Linked DNA regions of Homo sapiens: region 1 is linked to region 2. Evidence: fine-mapped expression QTL. Tissue or cell type: whole blood. Region 2 holds a variant in brackets; the other region holds the start of a gene. All regions are shown on one strand. Distances are from middle to middle.

Region 1 (8,182 bases), 37 kb before region 2:
TGGAAGGCTGAGGCAAGAGGATCGCTGCAGCCCAGGAGTTTGAGACCAGCCTGGGCAACAGAGAGACCCCCTGCCACCCCCAATCTTTACAAAAAAATTTTTAAAAAATTAGTCAGGCATGGTGGTGCATGCCTGTAACCTAGCTATTCTGGAAGATGAGATGGGAGGATTGCTTGAGCCTTTGAGAGCAAGGCTGCACTGAGCCATGATTCAGCCACTGCACTCTAGGCTGGATGACACAGTAAGTCCTCTTTCCAAAAAGGGAGAAGGGAGGAGAAGAAGAAAGAAGAGAGGAGGAGGAGGAAGAACAGGAGGAAGAGGAAGAAGAAGGAAGAGGAAGAAAGAAGAAAAGAAGAAAGAAGAGAAAGAGAAGGGAGGAGGGAGGAGGAGTAGCTGCATGAAACTTAAAAGGAATGCCTGAAAGGTAGACAGAGGAAACACGCACAGTCTGTTGTCACAGAAGGCAGGAATGATGGAGAGTGTTTATACTAAGTCAAACAATTGAAAAATGAACACTGGGCTGGGCGCAGTGGAGGACACCTGTAATCCCAGCACTTTGGGAGGCCAAGGCAGGTGGATGACTTGAGATCAGAAGTTTGAGACCAGCCTGGCCAACATGGTGAAGCTCTGTCTCTACTAAACATACAAAAATTAACCGGGCGTGGTGGCCAGCACGTGATGCCAGCTACTCAGGAGGCTGAGACAGGAGAATCGTTTCAATCCGGGAGACGGAGGTTGCAGTGAGCCGAAATCACCCCACTGCACACCAGCCTGGGTGACAAAGTTAGACTCTACCTCAAAAAGTTAAAATAAATAAAATTTTTAAAATGGACATCATGTATCAGACAGGAAAAAGCCAGTAAGACGGAAGAACTCACACCCTCGGGATCCCAAGACAAGATACTTCCATGGGATGGATGTAATGAACAGTGTTAAAAGATTTCTGGTGCAGTGCTTCTCAAAGTGTGATGTACACATAAATGACCTGGGGGTCATATTAAAATGCAGATTTTGGCTACACAGGTCTTGGGTAGGACCTGAGACCTGGCTTTTCTCAGAAGACCCCAGGTGATGCCCATGCTGCACAGCCCACAGACCACATGTTGAGTAACAAGGTTCTGCTGTGGTTCCCAAACTTTTCCGAGCACAGAATTATCTGGAAAACTTCTGTACTAGTCCATACAGCTATACATACTGCTATAAAGGATACTGCTACAAAGAATGCCCAAGACTGGGTAATTTATAAAGGAAAGAAGTTTAATTGACTCACAGTTCAGCATGGCTGGGGAAGCCTCAGAAAACTTACAAACATGGCAGAAGGCAAAGGGGGAAGCAAGGCACTTTCCTCACAAGGAGGCAGGAAGAAGTGCTGAGCGAAGAGGCAAGATCCCCTTATAAAACCATCACATCTTGTGAGAACTCACTATCATGAGAACAGCATGGGGGAAGCTGCCTCCATAATTCAATTACCTCCACCTGGTCTCTCCCTTGAAAGGTGGGGATTATGGGAATTACAATTCAAGATGAGATTTGGGTGTGGACATAAAGCCTAACCATATCAACTTCTTAAAGATTAGTGGTCCCCTAGCCCTACAGATTCTAAATTGAGTAGGCGTGGGGTAGGGCCTGATAACATGCATTTCTTAACAACCTCCCAAGTGATGGTGACAGTGACGCTGCAGATCCCCAGACCACACTTTTGAGATGCACAGCACAACTATTTGTGGCCCTGGCAGAGACAACCAGGGAGACTATTTAGGCTTCTAAACCTACTGCAAACCGGAAGTCTTGCTATATACCACCACTGCAGTCACAGTCCATTACAGGAGCCCATTCCTTTTATAGTACCTCCCTGGCTCCGGGCTCATATGGCCAGAAGTGTGAGCAAGGACCTACACTCATTATCCATCACCTCCATGGTTACTTTATCAGAACCAAAGACTCATTCTTAATTGGCTTATTCTCCCCAAGACTTACTCTCAGCAGTAGGTCCTACTTAGGAAAAGTCTCAAAGCTTCATCTTGCTTAGGAATGTCTTTTCATAGTATTAAAAAAAGCAGCTACTGCTGAATTCTACTTTCTTTTTAACTAAGCGATGATATTTCACAATGGTCACATTTCCCCCAGAGTGAAACAACTTGAGAGAAAAAAAAAAACCTATAAAATAAGAGGGAAATCCTATTTAAGGGGAACTCAATTCACCTATGTATTCATGAAACAGACACATGCACATAAAGGCATCTTAACGTGAAAAATAAACATACAGTCCTTGCCCTCAAGCCAGGCGACAGAAAAGCTACCAACAACCAGGCTGAAACAAGACAAATGCCATCTGAAAAAACAGCTGACATTTGTTTCTATCAAAGCCATCCAGCAGATACCTCAACATCTTTCCACAGAACGTGTGCTCTTTACTAACAACCGACACACAAAGGAGGACGATCTCCAACAGAGGTGACTAGGAAAGGCTTCCTGGATGGCGTAATTTAGTGTTGGAGTCAGACCAATGAGCCGCCTTTTCACGGGTGGAGGTCCCAGATGGCCATCCCTTTAACAAAAATCAATTAACATGTAAATTATGTACTGACAAATACAACGTTTGATGGGCCCGCTGCAGTGGCTAAAGCCTGTAATCCCAACATTTTGAGAAGCTGAGGCAGGAGGCCTGCTTGAACTCAGGAGTTTTAGACCAGACTGGTCAACACAACGAGACCCCATCACTATAAAAATTAAAATGAATCTCAGCTACTCAGGAGGCTGAGGAAGCAGGGTCACTTGGGCACAGGGGACTAAGGTTGCAGTGAGCTACGATCACACCACTGCACTCCAGCCTGGACGACAAAGCAAGACCCCCATCTCTACGAAAAATTTAAAAATTAGCTGGGCATAGTAGTGCGAGCCTGTGGTCCCAGCTACTCCGGAGGCTGAGGCGGGAGGATCGCTTGCGCCCAGGAGGCCGAGGTTGCAGTGAGCCGTGATAGCACCACTGCACTCCAGCCTGGGCGACAGACTGAGAGCCTCACCTGTAAAAAATAATTTTAAAAAAGGTTCCACCTAGTGTTTTCCGTGGTGTGACTAAGAAAAGTATCTAGAAATAAAGCACAGTCAGTACCTGCTCTCAAAAAACGGCTGCCAATCTAGTTTGGAGACAGAAAAATATACCCGACTGAGAACACAGAGGAGCCTGTTTTCGGAAGAGGGGCGTCTTTGGAGACGCAAAATCCTCTCCGCGGGACGCTGACGGGCAGTCGGTAAAGGACTTCCAAGCACTGGTCAGTGACAATCGGGCGCTGGGGCTTTGCCAAGGCCCGGAGGCGGCGCGCCAAACCGGGCAATGCGGGAAGCGGGGCAGGCCCGAGTGGCCCTACTGCTGCCGTCCCTACTGATCCCTGCGCATCCGCCACAGAGCAGGGAACGGCAGAAAGGAGGAAGGAGGGGGAGTTCCGTAAATCAGGCCCTCAGGGGCTCCCAGGCCCGCACCCCTCTCAAGCCCCGGGGACCACCGCGGAGCCGCTGCTCCGGGCCGTGCGGCTCGAGGCGAACCTGCCTCAGAGCCGCCGGGCCCTCCTATCCCGAGCCGTATCTCTAGCTCCGGCCTGAGGTGGCCGGCGACTGCGTGCGCAAACACAAGATCCGCACCCCACTCCCCGCCACTGCAGCTCCGCGGCCGCGCTCAGAGTCTCCGGAACAGACCGGACTCAATGCGGACCAGGCAAGCGGAAGTGTGCCGCTTCCTTCCGGCCAGCGCAGCACGAGACGAGGCGGGGAACCGCGGGAGGAGGCGGGGCCTAGTGTTGACGAACAGCTCCCGGGGCCTATGGGCGCGGGGGCAGCCGCCCGGCCTCTCCGGCGCGCCCCCTCCCCGGGGCTGTTGACGCCCCCCAGCCCCTCATTTCCACAAAGCTCCGCGGCGGTTCTGCCCTCCTTGTACCCGCGGCGCGCTGCGGCCCGTGGCGCGGCCCCGTTCCCGCCTAGCCCCGTCGGCCTCCTTCCCCTCCCGGAGCCGCGCGTGAGGACGGCTGAGGCCGCAGGTCTGTGGCGGCGCGCCGGGACGCGCGGGCGAGGGTCTACCGAGAGGGCGGGCGGGCGCCGGCGGAACCCTCGGCTACAGCCCCGAGCCCCTGGGGCCGCCCCTCCCCGCCGCGTGGCGCAGTCGGGGGGCGCGGCCGCGGCGTCGGGGCGTCGGGAGGGGCGGAGCGCGGGAGTGTCTGCCGGGACGCGGGCCGGGCTGGGCTCCGGAAGGACCAAGTTTGCGGAGCGGCTTCTGCTCGTCGGCCGTGCGGCGAGGCAGGGCCTGGGCTGCGACCCCGGCGGCCGCTCGCGGTCTTGGGAGAGCTGGGGCGCGTGCCTGAACTTCCCGGCTGCCCCTGTCCTTGGAGACCTACCTGATGGGGACGCCAGGTGTGCAGGGGCGTGGCGCGTAGGTAAGCGGACCCGGTGCCTGCCTCGTCCAGGGGATGCTCACTAGAGCGCTAGGCTTTTTTATTTTTATTTTTTAGAGACAGGGGTCTCGCTGTCTCGCCCAGGCTGGAGTGCAGTGGCGTTATCACGGCTCACTGCAACCTCGAACTCTTGGGCTCAAGCGATTCTCCCACCTCAGCCTCTGGAGTAGCTGGGACCACAGGCATGCACCACCGAGCCTGGCTATTTTATTGTATAGATAGGGTCTCGCTCTGTTCCCCAGGCTGGTCTCAAACTCATGGTCTGAAGTCATCCTCCTGCCTCAACCTCCCAAAGCGCTGGGATTACATGAGCCGCCTCGCCCGGCTAGCGCTAGTCGTCCTTATTAATAAAGAATCGCTTCTGGTCCCTTTTCAGTTGTTTACAATGGCATTCCTTTTGATCTGATGGAGGAACTTTTTTTCTTAGTTCATGGGACTGTTGCAGTGCCTGACACATAATTGGTACTTAAATATGTGTTGGTTTTCTGCCTTAACATATTAGAATATATGAATTGTTTAAAAAAGTCCTCTCACACTTAGGGAGGACTCTAGGATGAGGTCACATGGGGGATAAGCCCATCTGTGGCTGTAGGACTTTGTTAAACACTCCTCTTCTCCCTCTCTGTTCCAGATTCTCCATTTCCAGTGCTTGAAAGCACAGTACTTAAATCTGGCTTCCTGCTTTTTTTTTTTTTTTTGGTATGAATGAATACATGAATTGTATAATGTTAGTTGGTTTGTTCTGTAGAGCAAGTTACCCTTAGGAATTAATAAACTGTGGAAACAATCATGTCAGGCTACTAGTCACATTTAAGAAATAATTAGTAAGAGGCTGTTCATTATTCAGAGGAGTGAAGCAAGATGTTCTGGAGGACTGGAACCCGCTTACTCACTGCCACCACTCCCCCGCCTCCCACTTGCTGCTGCCAAACCAGGCTCCTGCTCCCCCCCACCCATTACTCCCACCGACGCTCCCTGGGATAGCAGCTGCCCTGATTGGCACACCCCCGCAGTCATCACCACTGAGGCGTATTCCTGAAGCTGCCAGTGTGAATTGTTTTATAGAACACTGGTGTTAAAATTCAGGTACCTGAGACAAAACAATATTTTAATTCTTCAAAATCCGGTTGTCAACACATTTACTATGGAGTATCTCCCACGTGGCCACTTCTGTGGGAGGTACTGAAGACCTACTACCGCCTATGGAAGTAGAAAATAATATACAACTGTGTAGTTACGTGACGCATTGCGTGGTAACTGCTATGGCTCAGGGAGGGAGAAGATCAGCCGGAACTGGAATGTCCCAAGATGTTCTGGAAGAAAAGCAGTGGCTCGTTTGTGTTGCTTACCTGTATTCCTGACTCCTGGCAGGGCCTGCTGTAGAGCACATGCTTCATGAATAAATATGATTGAGTTGAATAAATATTTGAATTGTGTTTTGAGTGTAGCTTTGAAGGCCAGCAACGATTTAGATGGCAAGATCGAGGGCAGGCTGGGCACAATGGCTCATTCATGTAATCCTAGCACTTTGGGAGTCCAAGGCGGGGAGGATCGCATGAGGCCAGGAGTTCAGTACCAGCCTGGGCAAGATAGGGAGACCCCATCTTTACAAAAAATAATTAGCCAGGTGTAGTAGCACATGCCTGTAGTCCAGATACTCGGGAGGCTGAGGTGGATCACCTGAGCCTGTGGAAGTAGAGGCTACAGTGAGCCGTGATGGTGCCGCTGCACTCCAGCCTGAGTGACAGTGAGACCCTGTCTTGGGGGGAAGAAAAAAAAAGGGAGGGCATGCTAATAGAGGGAAAATGGCATAAGTAAAGGCATTTCAGCATGGATGAGCACGGGGTGTGTTGGGGAGAAGGCACTGACGTTGATGGCCTGTTTATTGCTATCTAGGAGTGATTTGGAGAACAATGCATGTAAGTCTGACATCATGATGTCCATCCGGCAAAGAAGAGAAATAAGAGCCACAGAAGTTTCTGAAGACTTTCCAGCCCAAGAAGAAAATGTGAAGTTGGAAAATAAATTGCCATCTGGTAGGTGATTTAAACTAAAGCAGCAATTTGGGTTGCTTTTATTTCTGCATATTAAAATGTCACTCTCCAATAGGATAAAAATTTGGTGGGACCTAACAATTGAAACTTGTTGTAGTACCCTGATATTCTAATTGCAATTTGATTAGATTGATTTTACAGTTATGATTTGACAAAAGATGAAAGAGCTTTGATTAGAAGTGTTTGTCAGCTGTCTGTTCATTAACTTACGGTTCTTCCAATCTCATCCTTTGACTCTCTAGAGTAATGGTCCCCCCACCCACACCCCAGATTTTAGTCTCTCTCTAATTTTTCTGGTCGTGTATACTATTTACACCAGGCAACCTTACCTTGGGTGAGTTTCCATTAAGGTAGTGAAAGGTGGATCAACATTTTTTAAAAATTCTTTATAATTAGTCAAATTCCTGAAGTTTTCTTTTGCTTTTTTTTTTTTTTCTTTTATTGGTGGGAAAAGTAATCAGAACTTGGTCAGTTGTTTGTATAATGGTAAAGACTTGCTAAGTGATGCATCAGATAGCATTAATTACCAACTTCTTGCTTCCTGAGTAGCTTTTGTAACTAAAGCATGGTCAGGATTTTAAAAGTTAACATGAAAATCTTCATACCCATTAACCATTTTGGATATCTGACAGAATTTACATTATTTACAGCCATGTTAATTCTTACCAGCCAGGCTAGTAAAGCAATTCAGGGAAACAGTTTAACAAAAGTAATCTGTAATGGGAGGTCATGACACCTGGCTCAGCCATTAGCGAGTGATTAACACGTTTTGGATAATAGTACTTTCTGAACACCTTAAACAATGCAAAGAAAAAGAAATATACTCCCATCCTGAAACTAACACCAGTGGCACTGTCTTGCTGTCTTAATGTCATATTCTGCACATGTATACCCATAAGCATTCGTATACAGTTTTGCAAAATTGGGATCCACGTGCTGTTTTGTAGCTTGCTATTTTTCTCTTATTATGTTATGAACATGTCATAAGCCAGTTAACGTATTTTTGAAATATCATCTATGTAAAGTATTTTTATAGCTGCCACTGTAGAAGTGAAAGGTTTTCTTACCATTTGCTAATACAGACAGAACTGTGATCAATTTCCTTGTGGCCATATGTTTGTTTAAAACTTTATTTCCTTGGGGCATGTCTTAGTCCATTTCTGTTGCTATAAAGGAATACTTGAGGCTAGGTGATTTATAAAGAAAAGAGGTTTCTTTGCCTCAGGGTTCTGCAGACTGTATGAGAAGCATGGCACCAGCATCTGCCTCTAGTGAGACCTCAGGAAGCTTCCAGTCGTGGCAGAAGACTTAGGGGAGCCAGTGTGTAGAGATCACATGACCAGAGTAGAAGCAATTTCCAGGGAACACAGGATGTCAGGCTCTTTTTTAACCAACCAGCTCCCCTAGGACTAACAGAATGAAAACTCAGTACTGCTAGAATCTCACCAACCTGTTTATAAGGGCTCTGGTTCCATCACCACACCACCTCCCATTAGGCCCCACCTCCAACATTGGGAATCACATTTCATCATGAGATTTGGAGGGGCCGAATAGTCAAACCACAGCAGGGTACATGCCTAGATTGGGAATTACTGGCCAAATGGGATGCTCATTTTGGTGGCTTTTACTCACTGCTGCCATGTTGCATTCCAGAGAGGCACCAATTTATTCTTCTAGCAGCAATGT
Region 2 (8,182 bases):
TAAGGGTTTGGCATGATACATTTGTGAGTTTAGGAGTAAGGCTAACCTGGGCTTGAACCCTAGGTGCTAAGGGCATACCCATGGACAGAGCACTTAAATGTTCTCTATGCCAATTTTATGTTACAGGGATGATGATGATGATGATGATGATGATGATAAGGACAATTATTGAGAACCAGTGGCCAGAATCTTAAGTATACTTGTCCTTAATGTAATATATCTTTCGTTGAGGAAGTCTTCGAGGAAATTATTGTAAAAACTATCACTTTGGCCATTTGTGTTTTCTTTTGTGCAGAATAGATACCACAAGAGTTGAGTTTACCATCCCACTGAGGGAGAACTGGGCGCTGCCATTCTTTGCAATTCAGATAGCAGCAATTACATATTTCCTGAGACCAAACTTACAGCCTCTTTCTGAAGTAAGTGTTTATAAAATTTCATATATTTTAATCCCCCAATTTTATATATGAAGCTTCAAAAAATGTGATGTGCTTAGTATCCCAATGCATGTGAATAGTTCTTATTCCATGACCAATTTTTAAACTTGAGTTAAATTAAGTTTTCTTTTCGTGAGCTTTTTTCTACTTTGCAAAGAAAATGTTTTCATTTTTGATGTTAAAAATGTACTCTACATAATCTACCCTTAAATAGTTGCAGCAAACCCACACACAATTTCTGCAAACTGTCAGAATTTTTAAGCCCTTGCTCTTGAGATGTGATTTGGTGCATTATCGCCTCCATAATAGTGTGGAATACACACACCGTATGTGAATATTTATATGCAAAGTGTCACTTTATGATAGTTAGAGCTTAAATAACAAATGCAAGGGTTTTCAGAGCAACAGTTTATGGTTTTTCTGTTTGGTTTATAGAGATACTGGCTGCTCTTGAGAAAACTTGTCTGCAAGGTTTTTTATTACTAGAGACATGTAAATTATACAAAGGTTTTCTTTTTACAGAGGCTGACACTTCTTGCCATTTTCATATCAACTTTTCTCTTTAGTCTGACATGGCAATTTAATCAATTTATGATGCTGATGCAAGCATTAGTGCTGTTCACACTGGACTCCCTGGACATGCTGCCAGCAGTGAAGGTGAGCTTTGCTTTCTTTTCTCACTTGAGATTTTGGCCATTTAGTGTTTTTATATCATAGAATGAGATGAAAATATGCAAGTACTTATGGATAAAATTGAAGCTGTTTCTTAGATCTGCTGTAAATTTGCTGTGGCCAATTGAAGCTGAGTAATTTATGAAGCCTAGTTTGACCATCTTAACTTTTATTCGCTTATTTTAAGTTAAAAAATGGAATGGATTTTATTTTGGGGCATAAATGCCTAGGTCAATTGTTATTTATAGAGATGACTTAAATTTTAAAATATAAGATAGCTCTTTTAAAATGTCTTACTGTGTACTGCCACTTTTAAAAAAGAAATCAATAGGTATATAACAGCTTTTTTGTAGTACTTTATAAAATTTTCATAGTCACATTTAACTAATATGGGATGTGAATCCCTGTTGACTGGCTGAAAGTCACATGTGAAATAAAGAAACCAGTATCTGTCTCCTAATGTCTGCTGCTGTCATTTAATCACATTTTTTCATGTGCAAAAATATGATTTTATGTATTGCGTACAGTTTTAAAATGGCTTATAGTTAGTATTCTAAAGTAGTAGTAACTTAAATATTTCCCAAGTATAATAAAATACTTTCTCCATATCTAAGGCAGCAGCATAGCCCAAGGATTTGTGCTCATTTATTCCATATCAAAGGAGATCCAGTAAGCTTCCATAACTGACTGAGTCTGAATTAAGAAACATAAAAGTCTACCAAGAAATACACATTGCCTGTCTACTGAGACACTGTAATAGAATGGGCACTACAGAAAATGCCAATATGTGTAATTCATTGTCATAGCCACAGTTTGCCTTTTAGCTTGGGAAACAAAGATCACAGACAACAAGAACAAGCAGACAAATGATAGCTGCTAATTAGCAATACTGATATATCTAAAAGAAGAAAAGTTATTTTTAGGCAGAGAAGTGTTTACAGAAGTAAGAAGCTAGAACTGGACCACCTAGATCACAAGTGAGGGTAGAATTTGGGTGGGATGTCAGGGGTGGGGGCAGAATAGGAAGGTGGAATGCAGCAAGAGCAAGTAGATAGGACTAAGTTTATATATGTATATGAAATGTTTAGTGTTTCTGCAGGTGTGCCAGTGACCACTCCTACACTGCTGGTAACCTATACACTCCTATAATCTTTCTTTAGTGTAGTTTCACAGTAGGTATCAAAAGCCTAAAAATGTATTTGCCTTTTCACCAACATTTCTACCCCTATAAGTTTGTCCTAAGTAAATAATCTGCCATGTTCATTTTAGTTGTATTGTAATAAGAAAAAGCTGGGCGGAAAAGATAAAAAGAAATAAAAAACTGGAAATGACTTGAGCCAATAGCAATAGGGTATACTTAAATAAATGATGGCATATCTATGCAATCAAATATTATATAACCATTAGTTCCCCCATATTTTTTTGAAAAAGCGAAACATAGAGAAAATGAGTAAAGGTTCTGGAAAAATACACAGTAAAGTATCAACAGTCAGCTACACGATTGATGTTCTGCATATTCTTTTTGTTCTTTAGATCTTTTGATTTTTTCTGATAATGAACATGTGTCTCTTTTTTTTTTTTTTTTTCTTTGAGATGGAGTCTCACTCTGTCTCCCAGGCTGGAGTGCAGTGGCGCGATCTTGGCTCACTACAACCTCCACCTCCTGAGTTTAAGCAATTCTCCTGCCTCAGCCTCCCAAGTAGCTGGGAATACAGGTGCATGCCACCACACCCGGCTAATATTTGTATTTTTAGTAGAGACAGGGTTTTGCCATATTGCCCAGGCTGGTCTTGAACTCCTGACCTCAAGGGATCCACCTGCCTTGGCCTCCCAAAGTGCTGGGATTATAGGTGTGAGCCACTGTGCCCATCTGAACATGTATCTCTTTTAAAATTAGAAAGCAAAGGTACTGTTTTGGCTCACATACACAACATTTTAAAATAATATAGCTAATTGATTTTTTATTTAGTTCTAAACTTTGTTCAACTTTTACATTTGAAACTGTGTTGGTATTAGAAGTAGTTTTAAGTATCAGACTTTAAGGAGGAACATTATTACAATGAAAGGATCCTGAGTTATAAAACTAAATTGCTGCTGTCAGGTCTGAAAATAACTGGCTCTTTCAGCTTAGGCAAGTGATTTAACTTAGTTTCTTCATAAATTAGAATCACTTCTCTCTAACCATGTCAAATGGGAAAGAGTCAGAATAATTGGTATAGAAAAAGGTAATACAAATTCAGAGCTCAGTGTGGTGACAAGAAGCAGTACCTTCTACAGTACATTTTGTCATCTTTTCATGAATGATGAAACTCTTACCAGCAAAACCTCAAGTTTCCAGTCAGAAATGTGAACAGAGTAAAACAGAACAGCAAGCATATTATAAAGTGTATACTTTTGCTTAATTAAAGGCTAAAATATGGAGGTTAATAAAGTTTTCTTAATCTATTGTGGAAACAGACGCATTCATGATAAATGCTTAAGAGATCATGTTAAGTACCCTACATGGTTCCAGACAAGAGGGAGTAGAGACATTTCTCCCCGTTCCTCCCCAAAGTACATTGAAAAACCTTAGACAGTATATGTATATAACAAACATAAGAGGAATTTGAGAGGTAGAGAGAAGCAGACTGCCTAGGGACCTTGCGACCAGAGGGAAAATTTGACAGCGAGTTTCTTGGGTTTTCTTTTTGCCCCATATATCCTTGACTGGGTGCTGGAGAAGTCAGAAACCTGGGAATAACAATGGACTCAAACAAAAAGCCTCCTCCCTCTAGCAAAAGGACCAGAAGAGAGGAAGCCTAACAAGACAGAAAACTTTCAAACATTAACTGCCTTATTCTAGCGAAATGCTACAGAAGCAAAACCACAGCTCCACTCCCACCTCCATCAGTAAAGTTCAGTGGGAAGCCTAGATTCCTACCCTCACCTAGCTGTCACTAGGCATGCCTTGCTTCCTGCCAGAGCTATGTCAGAGAAGTCTAGTGGGGAACCAGAACTTTCACCATCTCCCAGAGACATCTGTGAAGGCCACTTGGGAAACTTGGACTTCAACTCTCACTCAGTGGTAATGAGACATCCTGTCCCCTCTCTATCAGGATGGTGTCAGAGAAGGTCAACAGGGAGGTTGAGACTCTAACCACCACCCAGATGTAATAAGCCTTTCTCTACTGCCCTACCCCATGCTGTCGGTGCAGGCCATGTAGGGAGCAGTGGTGACGCACCTCTGTTTCTCCCAGCCAGCATGTGTCAGCAGGGACCTGTAGAGAGCCTGAACTTTCGCCTTCACCCAGCAATAAGGAAGTACACCTTCTGCTGACCCCCAGATGTCAGTGGAGGGCAAGTGGGCACCTTGGACTTCCATTTCCGTCTGAAAGTACTGAGGCAGCACCCTTCTTTCCCCATTAGCATAGCGTTGGCATAGTTTGAATGTTTTTGTGGTCCCCCACCAAATTTATATGTTGAAACCCAAATCCCCAAGGTGATTGTATTAGGAGGTAGGTAGGGCCTTTTAGAAGGTGATTAGTGCCATTATAAAACAGGCACAAGGGAGCTGTTTCACCCCTTTCACCATGTGAGGAGGACACAGCAAGAAAGTGCCATCAGTGAACCAGGAAATAAGCCCTCACCAGCCACTGAATCTGCCAGTTCCTTGATCTTGGACTTGCCAGCCTCCGGAACTATGAGAAGTAACTTTTTTGTTGTTTATAAGCTACCCAGATTACGGTATTTTGTTAGATAACAGCCTAAATGGACCAAGACACATGGTGTCACAGGAGGCCTGCTAACATGGCAGATTTAAATAAGATCCAGGGTCCCATAATGTAATAGGATACAGTTAAAAATCACTTCTTAGGCCGAGCGCAGTGGCTCATGCCTGTAATCTCAGCCCTTTGGGAGGCCAAGGCAGGCAGATATTTGAAGTC[A/G]GTTTGAGATCAGCCCGGGCAACATGGTGAAACCCCGTCACTACTAAAAATACAAAAATTAACTGGCTGTGGTGGCATGTGCCTGTAATCACAGCTATTCAGGAGGCTGAGGCAGGAGAATAGCTTGAGCGAGCCAAGATGGGGCCACTGCATTCCAGCCTGGGCAACGGAGCAAGACTCTGTCTCAAAAAAAAAAAAAAGAAAAAAAAATTCTTATATTAAGAATTAGGAAAATCTCTCTTGAGTGAAAAGAGACAATCAATAGATGCTAACACTGAGATACACAGAAATTGGAATTATCTTACAAGGAATTTAAGGCAGCCATCATAAAAAAAAAGCTTCATTGAGCAATTACGAACACACTTGAAACAAATGAAAATACAAACTCTAAGCAAAGAAGTAGAAGATACAAAGAAGAAGCAAGTGGAAATTTTAGAACAGAAAAATTCCAGTAATCGAAGTTTAAAACTCAGTGGATGGACTCAACAGCAAAATGAAGTAGTCAGAGGAAAGAATCAGTGAACTTGAAGATAGAACAATTTAGAAATTACCTAATCTGAACAACAAGAAAAAATAGAATGAAACAAAAATGAACAGAGCCTCAAGGACCTGTGAGACTATAATGAAAAGTCTAACATTCAGGTAATCAGAATCCCAGAAGAAGACAAGAAAAGAGTTTACTGAAGCTGAAAAAAGTATGCAAAGAAATACTTTCGGAAAAAATAGTTGAAATTTCCTCAAATTTGGCAAAAGCTATAAACCTTCAGAATCAGCAAGCTGAACTAATATCAAACAGGATAAATCCAAATAGAGCCACACTAAGACACATTATAATCAAACTTTTGGAGACTAAAGATAAATTTTAAAAAATTGAAAGTAGTCAGAAAAATACTGTACCTATAGGGGAAAACCAATTTAAATGACAGTGAATTCCTCATCAAAATCAAGGAGGGGCTGGGCACAGTGACTCACGCCTGTAATCCCAGCACTTTTGGAGGCTGAGGCTGGTGGATTGCTTGAGCCCAGGAGTTTGAGACCAGCCTGGGCAACATGATGCAACCCCATCTCTATAAATAATAATAATAATAAAATGATTAGCCAGGCATGGTAGCAACGTGCCTGAGGTCTCAGATACTTGGGAGGCTGAAGTGGGAGAAATTGAGGCTTCAGTGAACTGTAATTGCACCACTGCATTCTAACCTGGGCAACAGAGCAAGACCCAGTCTCAAAAAAAAAAAAAAAAACAAAAAACAATGGAGGCCAAAAGGAAGTGGCCTAGTATTTTCAGATGCAGAAAAAAAGAACTGTCAAGGCTGGGTGCAGTGGCTCACGCCTGTAATCCCATTACTTTGGGAGGCCGAGGCAGACGGATCATGGGGTCAGGAGATAGAGACCATCCTGGCTAACATGGTGAAACCCTGTCTCTACTAAAAATACAAAAAATTAGCCAGGCATGGTGGCAGGCGCTTGTAGTCCCAGCTACTTGGTAGGCTGAGGCAGGAAAATGGCGTGAACCTGGGAGGCGGAGCTTGCAGTGAGTCTAGATCGCGCCACTGCACTCCAGTCTGGGGGACAGAGCGAGACTTCATCTCAAAAAAAAAAAAAAAAAAAAACCATCAACCTACACTCCTATACCTAGTTAAAATGTCCTTCAGGAATGAAAGGGAAATCAAAACATTCTCAATTAAGGAAACTAATATTGCCAGCAGTCCTACCGTAAGAGAATAGCTAAAGGAAGTTGTTGAAACAGAAAGGAAATGATAAGGAATTTAAGAGCATCAGAAAGGAAGACAAGGCAATGAAAAAAGTAAAAATGTGAATAAATATAACAGACTTTTCTTATTCTCTTGAGTTTCTAAATTACGTTTGAGGCTGGGCGTCGTGGCTCACACCTGTAATCCCAGCACTTTGGGAGGACGAGGTGGGTGGATCACCTGAGGTTAGGAGTTCGAGACCAGCCTGGCCAACATGGCGAAACCCCATCTCTACTACAAATACAAAAATTAGCCAGGTGTGATGATGGGTGCCTGTAATCCCAGCTACTCAGGAGGCTGAGGCTGGAGAATTGCTTTGAACCTAGGAGGCGGAGGTTGCAGTGAGCCGAGATTGTGCCATTGCACTCCAGCCTGGGAGACGAGTGAAACTTCGTCTCAAAAAAAAAAAATTATATTTGATAGCTGAAGCAAAAATTATAACACTGTCTTATGTGGTTCTCTATATGTAAAAGAAATACTTTAACAATATAAATGGGAAGGGTAATGAGACTTAAATGGAGGTTAGGGTTCTATGCCTCACTCAAACAGTTAAAATGTCTATACCACTAGTCCGTAATAAGTTATTAATGCATAATGTAATAGCCAGAATAACCACTTTAAAAAACTATACGAAGCAGTACATGAAAAAACAGTACAGATAAATAAAAATGAAATTGTAAAAATGTTCAGGTAACCTACAGGAAGGCAGGAAGAAGGAAGCAGGAATTAGAAGCAAGCAAACAAAAAAGAATAAAAGAGCAGATTTAAGACTAAAATAGCAATAATTACATTAAAGGTAAATGATCTAAATATACTAATTAAAGAGATGGCAGGGTGGATTTAAAAAGCATGACCCAGCTGTTGTCTAAAACACACTTCAAACACAACAATATAGATAAATTGAAAGTAAGAGGATGGAAAAAGATACAACATGCAAGTATCAATCAAAAGAAAGGAGTAGCTATGTTAATATCAGAGAAAGTAGATATCAGAGCAAAGAAAATTACTAGGGACAGAACAGAACATTATATAATGATAAAACGTTCAATGTACCAAGAAGAAATAGCAATCCTAAGTGTACCTGCACCAAACAACAGTACTGCAACGTGTGTGGGGCAAAAACTGACAGAACTGAAAGGAGAAATAGAAAAATTCACAATCGCAGTTTGAGACTTCAGCACATCTCTCTGGACAATTGATAGAACACCAGACAGAAAATCATCAGAGATATAGAACCCAACAACACCTTCAACCGACAGAATCTAATGATCATTTATAGAAACTCCACCCAGTAACAGCAGAATACTCATTCTTTTCAAGCATTCACAGAATACTTACCAACAGACTATCTCCCGAGCCATAAAACAACGACAAACATAAAAGAATTAGGATTATA

The links. PIP is the estimated chance that this variant, and not a neighbour inherited with it, causes the effect.
Region 1: DPY19L3 starts here. The variant in region 2 is fine-mapped to the expression of DPY19L3 in whole blood (TOPMed, PIP above 0.99).

Annotation. Positions count from the first base shown.
Region 1 is chr19:32,401,879-32,410,060 of GRCh38, forward strand. It overlaps DPY19L3 (dpy-19 like C-mannosyltransferase 3), which reads left to right and starts at 3,892. Exons shown (of 19, transcript NM_001172774.2): 1 at 3,892-4,031; 2 at 6,339-6,478. The coding sequence starts at 6,376. It overlaps DPY19L3-DT (DPY19L3 divergent transcript), which reads right to left and starts at 3,661. Exons shown (of 3, transcript NR_046201.1): 1 at 3,113-3,661. RefSeq lists silencers at 3,444-3,493, 3,524-4,273.
Region 2 is chr19:32,438,817-32,446,998 of GRCh38, forward strand. It overlaps DPY19L3 (dpy-19 like C-mannosyltransferase 3), which reads left to right. Exons shown (of 19, transcript NM_001172774.2): 7 at 296-419; 8 at 960-1,094. Among named protein-coding and RNA genes, the nearest start is that of DPY19L3, 37 kb to the left of the region's middle. The variant A/G (reference allele first, on the strand shown) is at 5,033.